Regions from separate parts of the Homo sapiens genome. Here region 2 is linked to region 1. A link means that fine-mapping ties the variant in region 1 to the expression of a gene that starts in the linked region. Tissue or cell type: whole blood. Region 1 holds a variant in brackets; the other region holds the start of a gene. All regions are shown on one strand. Distances are between the middles of the regions.

Region 1 (2,758 bases):
GGAGGGCTCCCAGCCCCTGGTTCTCACCTAATCAAGGGGCGCTCATGGGCACTGGTTTTTCCTTCACCCGTGGCCTCACCTGGGGCTACTACTCCAGGTGAGCAGGGCTGCTCTTTTCTAGGGAAGCCGAGGGATTGGCCCCCGAGTTCCAGATGGGGCTGAGCTGTCCTGTCCCGCCTGAGTTAGAATTGAAGTGGCCGATGCTAATCTGAGGCCGGTGTTGGCTCTACAGGTGTGGAGGCCCCCAGGGGAGCAGGGCTGAGAGGCCTGACTGAGCCCCTCCTGCTCAAGACAGAACTCAGATGAGGACACCCAGCCCTGCGGGACAGATGCAGGACATCACTGTCAGCCATGGCTCAGCCCTTCTGACCACTGAGATGCTGCAACTTCCCCTCCTGGGAGGGAGCGATTGGGCAAACACTTACCCTTTGCTGGAAATCTCAAGGCACAGCACGGGTGCTCACAATCTGAATACAGAACGAATGAATGAATGAATGAATGAATGAATGAAATGTCTTTCCTTATCTCATGTGAGAGACTTGACAGTTCTTTCACTCTCCAAGTAACATCAGCTTCCCCTGTCCCAGCCCAGTCTGTCCTGGGCAGACAAGATTAATTAAGTGGCTCCTGGGCAGACATTGGTGCAGGAGACAGGGCCCAGGAGACCTGTGTGATTTGGGCAATTCGCTTTCTATCTCTGTCCATTCATGCTGCTACAACAAAATACCATAAACTGGCCAGTTTATAAACAACAGAAATTCATTTCTCACAGTTCTGGAGGCTGAGAAGTCCAAGACCAAGGTGCCAGCAGGTTTGGTGTCTGGAGACAGTTTGCTTCCTCATAGATGGTGCCTTTTCCTTATGTTCTCATGTGGTGGAAGGGCTGTGCAAATTCCCCTGGGTCTCTCAGATGAGGGGACTAATCCCATTAGACTAATCCCAGAGTCCTCATAGCCTAATCGCCTCCCAAATCATTATACCTTCTAATACTATCACATGGGGATTCAAATTTCAACAAATGAATTTTGAGGTGACATATTCAGACCATAGCACTTGTCACTGTGGACCTTGATGTCTTCCTCTCCGAACTGTGGAAGTGGGAGTAGAGGGCTTGTCAGCTCCCCTGGGTCATATGTGGTTCACAAGTTCCTCCTTTCTACAGATTCT[G/T]TGGCTTCCTTAAGTCTCTCCTTCCCATTTTTTTTTCTGATTTTAATTGCAAACTGGGGACTGTGGGAAAGAGATGGGCCATGGTCTAGCCCTTCTGAGGCAGGAGGAGCATAGACCAATGGGGCAGGAGCATAGCAAAGAGAATTAAAAGTTGGATAAAGGGCAGAATAAGTAAAAGCAGAGAGCAGAAGCAAGGTGAGGGGACGGGTGAGCAAGAAGCAAGAGGCAGAAGTTGAGCAGCCAAAACAAAAAGTAAGATAGAGAAGTGAGCAAGGACACCCGTGGCCAGCAGGATCTGGACCAAACCAGTAAGGGGCAGTTCTTCAGAGCTATGCATGTGCATTAGAGAGAAAAAGTATCCTTAACATGACCCTGTATGATAATCAGCTCATTAAAGTTCATGCATATGGACTGCATATTATCCATGTACTTAAAATTATGGGATGGGTCAAAGTAACTAAGCAACATACTTAACCATCAAAAAGGCAGGCACTGGCCAGGCGCGGTGGCTCACGCCTGTAATCCCAGCACTTTGGGAGGCCAAGGTGGGCGGATCACTTGAGGTCAGGAATTCAGGACCAGCCTGGCCAACCTGGTGAAACCCCATCTCTACTAAAAATACAAAAATTAGCCAGGCATGGTGGCGGGCGCCTGTAGTCCCAGCTACCAGGGAGGCAGAGGCAGAAGAATCGCTTCAACCCAAAAGGTTGAGGTTGCAGTGAGCCAAGATTGTGCCACTGCACTCAAGCTTGGGTGACTTCGTCCCCACCTCACCACCACCCCTTCCCCCCGAAAAAAGGCAGACACTGGATAGAGATTTGGCAGCCTTGGGAAGCGAAGAAAAACAAAAAAACAAACAAACAAACATAAAAAGACCCAAAGTAATGCTGATCTCACCTCATAGAGATCAGTTCGCTCTCCCTCTCCAAGAGTGTGATACTGTGCTTAATAAACTGCTGCTTCTTGCTTTGCTGTCTGTGTGTGTCTCATCCAATTCTTTGTTTAAGACACCAAGAGCCTGGAACTGCATGGCACCATCCGGTAACACTTCTGCCCACTGAGATACTGCAAATATCCTTATGGGGAGAGAGTGGCTGGGCAAGGAGGAGGCGCCCAGGAGGCAGATTGGTCTGCAGGATGAGATACTAGCTGCAAATGCAGGGATTGGAGGTGAGGGCGGGGAGTGGCTTCGGACGCCCAAACCCAGCATCTTCCTCTCTCAATCGTTACAGCCAAATGATCTCTAGGTTATGGACAATTAGGGGACAGTGTGGGCTGAGCAGATCAATGCAGTTGTATGGAAGAAAACAGACTGGGATTTTCTATGTATACAACATCTTCAGGAAAACCTACGTGAAGTTAGAATTTTCAAGGCAGCATGTGCCGATGATAAAACTACATAGAACAGCAGGAAGACTATTATCATTAAAGTGAGGCTAGGGGCTCCTTCAGGAGGGAGCGGGGGCATGGCCAATAGGAAAGGGGAATGTAAGGGTGAATGAATTAATAAAATCTCTTTCTTCATTTCAAGGGACAGACTTGACAGTTCTTTTGTGTTCTAGTTCTTCAAGGGTGCTTATTTTGTGTGAAT
Region 2 (2,628 bases), 550 kb after region 1:
AGGAACCGGAAGGTGCGCCTGGAGCAGGGGCAGCGAGAACCAGACAGTCCAGGAGGAGGGGCTGGGCACGGGAGAGACCCCAGCTGGAGGGGCTCAGAGCCCAGGGGTGGGGAGGGTGGGTGCTGGGTCCCGGGGTCCAGAAGCTGGAGAAGGCTGGGGACACCTCCTGGATTCAAGAGGGAGGACAGAGATGGGGCTGGGCAGACTTTGGGAGCCTCTTCCCCTCTCTGAGGCTCAGCCCCCTCACCTGCCAAATGGGGATGCTGAGGGCACCTCGCTCTCTGGAGTGGGAGGTGTCAGGGAGAGGACTGGTGCTCAGGGCCTGGTATGGGGTCAGCGCTGGGAGATTGTGGCTGTCATAGTTGTAAATGACCCAAAGAAGGGAGGAGAGAGGAAAGAAAGCACCTAGGGAGGCTCTGATGGTTGGCTAGCCCCTGGCCTCCTTAGCCCTGGGCCTGGAGTCTCTGCAGACTGACAGGAGGGTAGGTAGGAAGCAGGTGTGCCCAAAGGGCCAAATTACGAGACAAATGAGGTTCCCTCCCAGCCGGCACCCAGGAAGCCAGGTTTTCTATCAGGCCATGCCTTCCCCAGGAGGCCTGCCTGGCCGGAGGGAGGAGGGGCTGGGGGCAGGGACTCCTGGGTCTCTGGGGAGAAGGAGGCTTTGGATCTGGACTCATGAGTCTGAGGGAGGAAGGGGCTGAGTCCTTGGATTCCAGGAACATTTGGGGAGAAAAGGGCCAGAGGCCTGGATTCCTGGGTCTGTGGTGAGGAAGGGCCTAGACTTCTGGGTTCTTTAGGGAGGAGGGGGATGAGAGCCTTGACTCCAGGGTCCCTGATGAGGAAGGGGCTGAGGGCCTGGACTCCTGGGTTCCTTGGGGAGGAGGGGCCGGGGGCCCGGACTCCTGGGTCCTGGCACCCACCCGTAGAACCGACCTTGCGGGGCCTTCGCCGCACACAAGCTCGTGTCTGTGGGTCCGTGTCGGGGGCTCACCATCGCGGCTGGGGCCTCCCCGGCCCTCCCCCTCATCCCTGGTCCTCCTGGTCCCTGTCTGTCTGTCTGTCGGGTCTGTCCACCTGCCGCGCCCCCCGGGCTGAGGTAGGAGGTTGTATAGTTGAGGAGGACACCCAAGGAGATCACTATACGGCCTCCTAGCTTTCCCCAGGCTGCGCCCTGCACGGGACGGGGCCCGGCGGGGACCCCCAGCCCCACTCAGGGACCCTTAGCCCCACTGGGCTGCCCCAGGGACCCTGGGAGGAAGAGCCGGGCTCTTTTCTGTCCTTGTCCCTGCATCCCCTCCTTCCCCTGAAATCTGTTTTCCTTCCCTGTCTGTCTCCATCTCTGCTGTGTCTCTGTGGCTTCTGTGTCTCTTTCACAGTGGATCCTCTGACTCCCTCTTATTCTGGCTTTCTAGGTCTCTGCCCCTCCCGATATCTCTCTGTGTCTCTATTTCTGTCGTTTTTGGTCTTTCTGTCTCTGGCTCTCAGAATGTCTCTGTGCCTATCTCCATCTCTGACCCCCACCCCAGGGTCTACCGGGCCACCGCACACCATGTTGCCAGTCTCTAGGTCCCTGAGACCCTTTAACCTGTGAGGACATCCAGGGTCACAGGTGAGGTTCTTGGGAGCCTGGCGTCTGGCCCAACCACACACCTGGGGAATTGCTGGCCTGACTTCTGACCCCTGACTCCTCATACCCTTCCTCCAGAGCATGACATTTGACCACCAACTGAAACCTGACCTCTGACCCCAGACCACTGGCCCTTCCCCCGCCCTGTGGTGACTTCATAAAGGTTACTAGCTTCTCCCCTGGCCTTGAGACCCACACGATGGCCCTGCTGGCTCTGGCCAGTGCCGTCCCGTCTGCCCTGCTGGCCCTGGCTGTCTTCAGGGTGCCCGCCTGGGCCTGTCTCCTCTGCTTCACAACCTACTCTGAGCGCCTCCGCATCTGCCAGATGTTTGTTGGGATGCGGAGCCCCAAGCTTGAAGAGTGTGAGGAGGCCTTCACGGCCGCCTTCCAGGGCCTCTCTGACACCGAAATCAGTGAGGAGACCATCCACACTTCATCAGTGTCCTGGGGAAGGTGCAGAGGGAGGGCAGGAGAGGCCCAGAGGGTCAGGCTGAGGGACAGACAGAGAGAAACAGTCAGAGGAGAAAGGCTCAAAGACCATGAGAACAACAGAGACTTAGGGACAGAGAGACACAGACAGGGGAAGACAGCAGGGCAAAGACTCAGAGAGGGGAGGATGGAGAGTCAGAGAGGGGAAGATGGAGACTCAGAGAGGGGGAGGATGGAGACTCAGAGAGAGAGGAAGATGGAGACTCGGAAAGATGGAGACTCAGGAGTATGGAGAGTCAGAGAGGGGAGGATGGACACTCGGGAGGATGGAGAGTCAGGAGGATGGAGACTCATAGAAAGGGGAGGATGGAGAGTCAGGAGAGGTTGGAGACTGGAGAGGGAATAGAGACCCAGAGAGGGGAGGATGGAGACTCAGAGGGTGGAAGATGGAGACTCAAAGAGGATGGAAACCCAGAGAGAGGAGGACAGAGATGAGGCAGAGACTAGGGGAAGCAGGATAGCGACTGGTCGGGGGCAGAGACTCAGGGAGGATAGAGACTTGGGAGGGACTC

The links. PIP is the estimated chance that this variant, and not a neighbour inherited with it, causes the effect.
Region 2: SPACA6 starts here. The variant in region 1 is fine-mapped to the expression of SPACA6 in whole blood (INTERVAL, PIP 0.96).

The regions. Positions count from the first base shown.
Region 1 is chr19:51,138,360-51,141,117 of GRCh38, forward strand. It overlaps LOC124904749 (a long non-coding RNA gene), which reads right to left and starts at 2,151. Exons shown (of 3, transcript XR_007067310.1): 1 at 2,065-2,151; 2 at 426-467. The variant G/T (reference allele first, on the strand shown) is at 1,168.
Region 2 is chr19:51,691,701-51,694,328 of GRCh38, forward strand. SPACA6 (sperm acrosome associated 6) reads left to right here and starts at 1,630. Exons shown (of 9, transcript NM_001316972.2): 1 at 1,630-2,040. The coding sequence starts at 1,827. SPACA6-AS1 (SPACA6 antisense RNA 1) reads right to left here and starts at 1,756. Exons shown (of 2, transcript NR_108100.1): 1 at 934-1,756. MIR99B (microRNA 99b) reads left to right here and starts at 912; the gene lies at 912-981. MIRLET7E (microRNA let-7e) reads left to right here and starts at 1,086; the gene lies at 1,086-1,164. It also overlaps MIR125A.